2 separate regions of the Homo sapiens genome follow, and region 1 is linked to region 2. Evidence: fine-mapped expression QTL. A gene starts in region 2. The other region holds a variant in brackets. All regions are shown on one strand. Distances are from middle to middle. Region 1 overlaps ITGB1-DT (ITGB1 divergent transcript). Region 2 holds the start of IATPR (ITGB1 adjacent tumor promoting lncRNA).

Region 1 (5,383 bases), 49 kb before region 2:
GCTAAGGCAGGAGAATCACTTGAACCCGGGAGTCGGAGGTTGCAGTGAGCCGAGATCGTGCCATTGCACTCCAGCCTGGGCAAGAAGAACAAAACTCCATCTCAAAAAAAAAAAAAAAAATAGAGATGTTCATTTTTGTCTCATGTTAATAACAATGATTTGAGTTGGTGGGGTATCTCACTTTATTAAGTTTATCAGGGACCATGATCCTTTCATCTTGTTCTTCTGTCGTTTCCTAGGGAAGAGATATACAAATGATGGCTCCCAGATTGTTTTTGCAAATAAAGTTTTATTGGCACCCAGCCACACTCATTTGTTAACATACTGTCTACAGTTGCTTTAACAGGTAGAGTTGAGTAGTTGCAACAAACCAAATGGACCCCAAAGCCAAAAGTATTTACTATCTGCAACTTTTATTATTTATTATTTTTTATTTTTTGAGACAGGGTCTTGCTCTGTGGCCCAGGCTGGAGTGCAGTTGCATGATCTCGGCTCACTGCAACCTCTGCCTCCCAGGTTCAAGTCATTCTCCCACCTCAGCCTCCCAGGTAGCTGGGACTACCGGTACGTGTCACCACGTCTGGCTAATTTTTGTATTTTCAGTAGAGACAGGGTTTCACCATGTTGGCCAGGCTGGTCTCAAACACCCAACCACAGGTGATCCGCCCACCTCGGCCTCCTAAAGTGCTGTGATTACAGGCGTGAGCCACCACACCCAGCCACTTTCTACATCTTTAGTAGAGTTTGCTGGCCGAGGCTTTGTTATGGGTTAGTCCGTGTTTCAGCTCACTAGGAAGAAGGGCAGCAATTTCCTTTCAGGGTGGAAGTTGCATACATGACATCAGCTCACCCTTCATTGATGAGAACTTAGTCACGTGGTCATACTCAGCTGCCAGGTAGCCAGGATATGCAGTGTGGCCTTGGGCAGTGATATGCCCAGCTCTAATCATATCACTTTGAAAGATGGGAAGAATTAATTCTGGTACAAACCAACAGTGTCTGCCACATTTGTCCTCAGTATGAGCTCCCTTTCCCTTTCCCAAGTGTCAGACTACCCAAAAAATCCACAGTTCTCGTTCCTTCACTGCAGTGCCCTCTAGCTTCTGCTCCTGGCTTTCTTGAGTGTCTCTGTTGTTGCTTCTTATCTCTAATGTCACCCAGTTCTCATTTAATCTTAGCAAGTCCGGTTGACCTTTTAGAAAAACAGCCCTATGATTTATGACAGGGTTTTTCAACGCTGGCGCTTGACATGAAATTCTTTGTTTTAGGAGCTGTCTTGGGCAATGTAGAATGTTGAGTCACATCCCTGCCTTCGGCCCAGTGGATTCCAGTAGCATCTCCCTGTTGTGATGACCAAAAATGCCTCCAGACATTACCAAGTGTCCTTGGGGGGACAAAATTGCCTGTGGTTGAGAATCACTGACTTACAGGTGGATGGGATCTCTACCTTTTGTCCCACCATGTTTTTAATGGTCACCAACATTTTGGTTCAAAGAGAATTCCTCCTTTATAATGATAAATCTCTCTTGGTTTTACAAAGCAATGCTATTTGACTAAATTTAACTTCTTAGGTATTGAGTCTGTATTTGTAGATGTGAAGCTTTTTAACTCTGAGGAGCTCTAGGTAATTATTTCACCCAAATAATCCTATGAACACTAGAATCTATTCTAAAATATCAGATCTAGGCTATGGATCAGGGGAGACTTTGAGGCAGAGAGAAGAGAAGCTGTTTAATTTAGGAGGCAAAAAGTGGGGGCAGGAGGAAGAGAAGCTCATTGAGAAATAGTAAAAAAAGGACTTACTGGAATGTTGTATTCATGGGCAAGAAAATGCCGATTCATTTTACAGTGTGCTACATGATATTCCAGACCTCGAACTTCAGGATGCATTAAAATCACTTGGCACTCTTGTTCAAATGTGTTTAACCCACCTCCAGAGATTCTAGTTCAGTTGATCTGGTGGCAGGAGGTAGTGGGTGGGGTGGGCAGAAATGGAAATTCTGATGCCATTGATCCAATTTTAAAAAATGACTGTTTTAGACTAACTTTTCAGAAACGTTTAAAAATGTTTCTATGTTCATTTAAATAATAGCTGTCAATTGTGATTGAGGAATCACACCAGCATGAGTAGTTTATTTTGTCATTTAGCCCAGGTTCTAATTCATGGCATCTATGCCAAGTGAGGAACAAAGTGGGCTTTGTTAATTGCCTGCCAATACCTTGTTTCCCAGCACAGAACTCTCTAGAAGCTGGATTGCACCATGTGCTTTAGGCTGGAGCTAATGTTTGGCCTTTTATTTCCTCTTCTCTGGATTTCTGCCTATTTTATCTCTTGTCCTTCCCTCCAAAATAAATGATAGGCAGGGCCCTGCTACCGTAGCACCAGGCAAAGTCTATTGGTTACACCCTCCAGTGACCTAGGAAAGGGAGCAGGACAGAGAGGGACCATTTTGGTTGTAAAGATAAAAATTGGAACCAAAGGCAACAAGCCTCAAGTAGTTAATGAGGAACCTTAAAATGATGAGAAAAAGAGATTTTTGAAAGTTAAATTAGTGACTCTAATGAATTCACTTTAGCATGTGATGCCTAATCTCATTCTTGCCTGGTATCAATGACCAGCACCCACCAGTCAAGGCTCCTTTGCCCATGGCGAGGGCAGTTGTTTGGGCCAGCCAGAATCCCCTTGACACCAGAGAGGAGAGGCCAGGCCTCCTGTCCTGAGGTGGAAGCCAGTCCTGTTCTTCCTGTTGCATGGGCAGTTGGAATCCAGAGTGCACAAGAGAAGATAAAAGTCGTGCTTTGCAAGGGAACTGATCTTTAACACAGCAACCTTGGCTGATGAGGCTTAGGTTTTCACAAAGGAGATCCACCTACTCCTCAGAGTTGGTGCAAGCAGGAGGGCAGAAAAAGAATCTAAAATGTGGACAGGGCTGGGAGTGGTGGCTCACACCTGTAATCCCAGCACTTTGGGAGGCCGAGTCAGGCAGATCAATTAAGCCCAGCAGTTCGATACTAGCCTGGCCAACATGGTGAAACCCCGTCTCTACAAAAAATACAACAATTAGCCAGGCGTGGTGGCAGGCACCTGTAATTCCAGCTATTTGGGAGGCTCAGGCATGAGAATTGCCTGAACCAAGGAAGTGGAGGTCGCAGTGGGCCAAGATCATACCACTGCACTCCAGCCTGGGCAACAGAGTGAGAACCTGTCTCAAAAATAAATAAAATAA[A/G]ATGAAATGTGAACAGGAGTTGGCTCCTGTAGAGACCAAGTCCGAAATCAGATGCAGGGGAATAAGAACCTGACCTTCAACTCTTTCTCCTGCTTTTACGACTTTTCTCCCTTTCTCCTTCTTTTTCCTTCCTTCCTCCATCTCTTCTGTTTTTTTTTTTTTTCCTTTTAAAGACCAAAGACAAATTTTTCATATAGACCAACCTTAAGACAAGCTCAAGGAAGTAGCATTGTTCACACCTCTCCTTTTCTTCTTGTTCTGATATGGCCCCAATCTAGCTTGGGTTCAGTGTTGCCCCCTCATTTTGATACTCACACACTGTTTCTCTATCTCTCTCCCTTCTTTCCTTCCTTCCTTCCTTCCTTCCTTCCTTCCTTCCTTCCTTCCTTCCTCCCTCCCTCCCTCCCTCCCTAGCTCCTTCCTTCCTCTCTCTCCTTCTCTCTTTCTTTCTCTCACCCTCTTTCTCTTTATCTCTCTCTCTTTCTCTTTCTTTCTTGATAGGATCTTGCTATGTTGCCCAGGCTGGTCTCGAACCCCTGGCCTCAAGTGATCCTCCTGCTTCAGCCTCCCAAAGCATTGGGATTACAGGCATAAGTCACCATGCCTGACTCTTACACACTCTGATAACAGCAACTGTTACTGAGCTGAGCACATAGTAGGAGCCTTGTAAAAGCACAGAGTCAGTCAAATGCATATAGGCTGTCTCAAGTTGAAGCAGCTGTGTCCCAGAGGATTACTCAATGCTAAATTTCTTCTGTCCTATGTTACATTCTCTCTTGCTCCCACTTGCTTTGATCACCCACCCATCCTCAGAGATGTGTGTCCACCTGACCTGCCTGGCTCTGGCATTTTTATGAGGTGGTTGTGTTCTGATGGTGATCATGGCCCTGGTTCTAACTCTGCCTCATCCTCCCCATAGTGAGCAAGCTTTTCCCTCCCACCCTGCCCTCATAGCCTCTGTATTTGCGTTGATGTGCTTATCTCTGGGCTGAGAGCTGATTTGGTCTTCCCTGGCTACAGGGCTGAAGTAGGGCTGGTTGATACAGAGGTGCTCGGTCTGTCCTTAAGACCAGGGATGGTGTGTTAGTTTCCTTGGACTGCCATAACAAAGAACCACGAACTGAGCAGCTTCAACAACAGACATTCATTGTCTGAAAGTTCTGGAGGCTCCAAGTCCAAGATCAAGCTGTTGCAGGATTGTGGGCTCTGAGGTAGAATCTATTCTCGGCTAATTTCGTGGCTTCTGGCACTTTGCTGGCGATCTTTGGGATTCCTTTTCTTATAGAAGCATCACCCCAGTCTCTGCCTTCATATTCACATGGCCTTCTCCCTGGGTGCATGTCTGTGTCCAAATTTCCCCTTTTGATAAGGACACTAATCATGTGGGATGAGGGGCGTGTCCTACTCATGTGTGATTTCATCTTAACTAATTACATCTGCAATAACCTTATTTCCAAATAAGGTCACATTCCAAGGTACTGGGGGTTAAAACCTCCACATCTTCTTGGGGGACCCTTAAGAGATGGTGACTTTTCTGTCGCCATCTTTCACATCTGTCACTTGCATCTATTAACCTCTTTCCTGGGGCTGAGACTAGAGTGAAACAAATGAGAACTCATGGGGAACAATAAATTTAAGGGGACATAAAGTAGCTCAGCAGTCAAGATAAATTATATTTTAAATGAAGTGGGTTTTTAAATATATATATATTGTGTCTTTTTTTGGTCAGTTTTTTAGTGTTTTTAATTTTTTTTTTTATTTTTGAAGCAGAGCCTCACTTTGTTGCTCAGGCTGGAATGGAGTGGTACAATCATGGCTCACTGCAGCCTCCATCTCCCAGACTCAAGGGATCCTCCAGAGCCTCAGAGTCCAGATTAGCTGGGACTACAGGCATACATATGCCTGGCTAATTTATATATGTTTTTTGTATAGATGGGGTCTCTCTGTATTGCCCAGGCCTCAATCAGTTCACCCACCTTGGCTTCACAAAGTGTTGGAATGACAGTCATGAGCCACTGCACCCAGCTGTGAAATGTTTTTAAATGTAAAAGTCAATGGGAAAAAATCCATGATGAACAAAATATTAACGTCATAAAGAAAGGCAGGATCTGCCCTCACGCTTGCACGGTGGAGCCTCTCTCATCTCATCCCGTCTT
Region 2 (5,383 bases):
TTAAGGTGGGAACTGAGGAGAACATCTGTAAAAATAACAGCATGCAAACTGTACAAGGACAGGGCCATGCCCAGTTAACCCGCTGTTTGAGGTCTAAATACTTTTTGGTTATTGTGCAATATGAGTAAAACATCCTCAGAGATGAATCATAGCTCTAGAATTTTAGATTATCACTGCATATGACAATATAAAAAAATCCATGCTCCATTACACCAATTTAATAAAGCAATGTGGCATCTACCTGCCTGAACACCAAAGACACGCAACCTTATGAAAAGAAAAAAAAAATCCAAATATTCATTCTTAGAGAATCACGATTTCATTGACTGGATCAGTGTCGGCTGCCTTCAGTATAAAAACAGGACAACTTTGAATATATCAGAGACTCTCCAAATATCATCATGGAGATTTACTAGGAGCCTTCATAAATATAGTGAGTAATAAAGCAATTTCTAGGGACTATATAGTAATCTTGAATTCTGTGATTCATATAAATGTGAATTATTAATAGAAAATAATCAAAATGATTTAATAAAAGTACATGTGTTCACATAGAAAGGGGGAAGAGAGGCCGGGAGTGGTGGCTCACGCCTGTAACCCCAGCACTTTGGGAAGCTGAGGCGGGTGGATCACGAGGTCAGGAGTTTGAGACCAGCCTGGCCAACATAGTGAAACCATGTCTCTACTAAAAATACAAAAATTAGCTGGGTGTGGTGGCCTGTGTCTGTAGTCCCAGCTACTAGGGAGGCTGAGGTGGGAGAACCCCTTGAACCTGGGAGGTGGAGGTTGCAGCAAGCCGAGACCATGCCATTATACTCCATCCTGGGAGACAGAGTGAGACTCCGTCTCAAAAAACAAAAGGGGGTGGGGGGTGGGGAAGACAGCACTGCTTAGATATTAGAAAAAATCTGAGATTTCATTGCTTTTTCTATAAGTTATAAGGTGATACCATGGAACTGTGGGCAAGTCCCTCAACAATCTAAGCTTCCATTTCTTGATCTCCAAAACAGTGGCACCGAGGTTTGCCTTGCTTACTGCCTTGAGAAGTTCAGGAGAGACAGTGCTTGTGAAAGTGTGAGTCAATTACTATTTGTTTTCTTGCATGTGGCTTGTAAGGAAGTCAGATAACATAAGAGAAGTGAGTGACTGAGTGTTAAAGTGAATTACCAAGGATGCTGGAACTTGAAATGCTTTTGTGTGTAGCAATGCAGGCCGAGCTGCCACGTGCTATCCTGTGTGTCCCCGCTCTCCCCGCGTTGCAAGCCCGCAGAATGCCCCGCATCCACTGAGCCGTGGCCAGCCCTACGGTGGGCAAGCCTATCAAGCGCAAACATTGGGAGGGTTCTGACTCTCAAGTGTCTTACAGAAAATAGAGCCAGGAGCTCCATCTGGCACTCCATTTGCTAAATGTCCCATTGATGTCAAACGCCAGGAAATGTGGCTGTTTAAAATCCCAGGGAATAAGATTTCCACTCAGCAGCTTTCTAATGTACGCGCAGCACTCTGCGAAGCAAAAGCCCTTGCTGAGCAGTCTGGTCACAGCCCCTTACACACAAGCTCTCTGGGCCTCCACTAAGAAGTACAAAGACACAGGGCAGAGGAAAATGGACTTATCAGCTCCAGTGGCTTAAAATATGCCGGATGCCAATAGAGGGCACTGTTGCATATCCACAAAAGCCCACGCTCCGCAACCTAGCAAGACCACCAAAGCACTCACCTCCTTCCACACTCTGGCTGCAGTCCTAATGATGAACAGGAGCGATTAAAGTGGCAATCCCACAAAACACGGCTTCTGGTCAAAGTTCATGACTGCTTCATCACCACTTTGATATTTGCAAAGGGGCTTCATGATCATTTTCAGTCCTGAGTCATCTCCAGTACTTTTCTGCAGAATGCTAGATCTCTTAGCTTCACTTTTCAGAAGACTGAAATCCAGAGAGGTTAACTAGATGACTTGAGCCCATTCAGTCCAGAACTAGACAGAGATAGAAAACTCAGGGTTCCTGAATTCTACGCTGGAGAGTTTTCAGAACGGTGCATTGCGAGCTTTGAATGAAAAACATCAACAGCCTGCATCCGCTCTTGACTCTTTAGGGGAGGTTGTATGGCTTGGTGATTAACTGGGACTTCACAGGCAGGACTCCTGTCCCCACCACCTCCTAATTGTCGTTTATCCCAGTGGAAGTTGATAACTGATAACCAAACCTGCAAGTGAGGCCCATTCTGCAGCCCAAGAAGGAGTTAGGGAGGGATAGGAAACAGACACATAAAATCAGGCCAAATAGTGAAACTGATTGGAGTGCTTTGGGGTATCAATGTTGTATCCTAATTGTCCTTTATCACAGTGGAAGTTGATAACTGGTAACCAAACCTGCAAATGAGGCCCATTCTGCAGCCCAAGAAGGAGTTAGGGAGGAATGGAAAACAGACACATAAAATCAGGCCAAATAGTGAAACTGATTGGAGCGCTTTGGGGTATCAATGTTGTATCCTTCAGCGATCCCTCTCAACTATTAGTTAACTGAGAACAGATTGCCCCGAACTTGGGAGCTGTCAGATCTGTTTCTTGCACTCTCCCACCATTGACCCCTGACTCCTACAGAATCTCATTTTGCATCCCACATTCTGAAGGCATTGAATCATTTTTTTTGGCTAAGCACATGTTGGCTCTGGAGTCGCCTATATACAGAGTCTTTGCTGCTGCATTTGAGGCCTGGTGACATGTTATATTATGTAATGTTCTGGCAGTTAAGGAAAACTCACGCCCTCCCTGTTATGTATGAAGTGTCATCTCTAAAGCAGAGACTATTTCTTGCAAAATGGCATTGATAAATGGATAAACGAAACCAACTGACAACATCCCCGTAACAATGCAGTATCCTTCACTGCCAGTTTATTTCTAGAACACCATTAGGCAAAAAAGAAGGCTTTGTGGCCTAAGTAGGTGTTTTCATATATTTCGGAATGACAAATTAAGACGACAAGGATTTTCAGTCAGGCCATGACAGTAAATGTGCGCTTGTCACTTGTTGTAATGCTGTCCGGCAGGCCATAAGGGCCAGGCTTTACTGCATGGCACATTGGGGAGCCAAATCTCTCTGGTGGCATCTTTCTGTCTGGCACCTCACTCAAGTTAGAAAACTCAACCTAGAAAAGACTGTTGGTCCCTACATGGGCAAGTGTTACTTTCGCTATTACTAAACCCTGTGCCAGTCTTGGGGCAGTCGGAAAGGGTGGAGGAAAACAGGGTGCTTTGATGGCTCTGGCCTGGTCTCAAGTGACACACCCTAATCTGAAGGGTTTGTGCCCACATCCTCTCCGCTGCAGCTGGGTGGCTGTTGGCAATCACCTTTGCAAGCACTTGTGTGTACCATGCCAGCGGTTGCTCGTGCCAATTAGAACTCAGCTGGATCTTGATATAAATGGGCCATAGGCTAATCGTTCTGGGATACATCTTAAATTAGTCTGAGAGAGTCAGAGACCACTGTAAAACCATTTGGCCCAGAGTTTGTGCAAGTTTCTCTGATCCAAAATGGCACCTTGGTATCCAGCTGTCTTGGATGCAGACAACTCTTTCACCTCGGGTCATCATCAAATGCCAAACACAAAAGAAATCCTAACCTCTCACTTTACACAAGAGGAGGCCAAGGCTCAGAGAATTGTAAAGACTTGCCACCAGGTTGTGGCAATGTGCAGTGAAGAACACAGTCTATTTCTGGCATCAGAAGGGCTCAAGTTTGGTTCTCCCAGGCACTGTTTGACAGAACCTCCCTGAGTCTTGGATTACTTTTTGTAACCTTCTGAGTTGTTGAGCAGGTGACATGCAGGAACACAGATATTTTAGTGTGCCCCCAATTGCCTGGGATACTGGTTAAATATGCAGATTTTTGGACCCCTGGCCCCCACCAGAGACTTGGATACAGTTTTTCAGGTTTGTTTTTTGTGGAACACTGTAGGGACAAATGGGAGTGTTTGCTGTGTCAGTGGCACAGCCTCTGATCCTTGTTCTATTCACTGTTCGCCTTCTAGTTTCAGCTCAGCTGTAGACAGATGCACTCCTGAGAATGTGACTGAACTTTACTAAGTAGGAATCACTGTAAACCTTATTCACCATCTACTCCACCCCCACCACTCGTCTTTTCTGGGTCACTACTTCTCCCTTGCGTCTAGTCAGCATATAGAAATAAAGATTGTGTCTACCTTTATTATACCCACTAGAAGGCCTGACATAGAAAATAAACGTGAGCCCATACCTATTATAGAGAGCAGAGGCCATTATGCCTTAACTTGCTATGTTCTGTTGCTACCATAGAACTGGACAAAGATGGAACTTTCATTCTAGTGGCTGGTCCATGGAGATATTCTGTGGTATTCAAAAAATCTTGGGGCATCTTTAGGGTCTAACACTTCCATTATTCATGCAATGTGACGCACTTGTATTTGGCATTTAAGTATACATGCATGCAAATATTTTACCTCAAACACAATGGTACTAAATATATTTTTATTTCTAATTCTGACTACAACCAATTTTCTACCATTTTTCTAGAACCAGAAAAATCAAAGTCAATGAAAGTAGCGAGAAGAACATTCACTGTGTAGTTTTCTGTTGTGCCTACAATCTGAGTTATTTATTTTAAAATTACATACTTCAAAATATTCCAACCCTGCCCAAACACTTTATAAAGACTCAGCTTTAAAAAAAAAGTTCTGATTTTGTTTACTGAAAAGGCAAAATTACAATCAAGGAACATTGGAGAGAAAATAATCTGCTATTCAGACACATCAGCTGATTTTATTCTTTTCAATTTTCTTTTTGTCCTTGTCCATATACTTGCAATTCAAGGAGGTTTGTTTTCTAGTTTCAGCTCAGCCATTAATAAGTATGATCCTGAGAAAGGAGCTTAACTTTAATAAATAGGAATAAACGTTTGTCTTATTGATGCCATTGGGTAGTTGTGGGGATTCAGAAATAAGGCAGGTGAAAATGTTTTGCATACTATAAAGTGCCCTAGATGTCAAAATAATTGTTATTTTGATCTAAGACTCTCATTTCATGACTATATCTTCTGTCTCTCCACAAGCTGTTGACATCTGTTTTTAGAGGGTGACAAATACAAAGTAAAAGGAAGATAAAAGGATCTACAAAGATTTCAGAGTATATGACCCAAAGAAGAAGAAGCTGAAAACCTACTTACTCGACATCTTCAAATATGTGAAGGCCAGTGAAAAACATAGAGTGGGAATCAGCTGTTACCAACTCTCCAGATATAAATTAAGATGTAATGGGCTTCAATTGCAGAGGGAATTTAAGTTTTTTTTAAGATCAAATTCCTGACTGTGGGAATTATTACCAACTACAAGGGGCTAGCATTGCAATGGC

What was found. PIP is the estimated chance that this variant, and not a neighbour inherited with it, causes the effect.
Region 1: its variant is fine-mapped to the expression of IATPR in whole blood (INTERVAL, PIP above 0.99).

What each region holds. Positions count from the first base shown.
Region 1 is chr10:33,065,873-33,071,255 of GRCh38, forward strand. All of the region lies in intron 2 of ITGB1-DT (ITGB1 divergent transcript), which reads left to right. Among named protein-coding and RNA genes, the nearest start is that of IATPR, 48 kb to the right of the region's middle. The variant A/G (reference allele first, on the strand shown) is at 3,228.
Region 2 is chr10:33,114,754-33,120,136 of GRCh38, forward strand. IATPR (ITGB1 adjacent tumor promoting lncRNA) reads right to left here and starts at 2,054. Exons shown (of 3, transcript NR_160030.1): 1 at 1,718-2,054.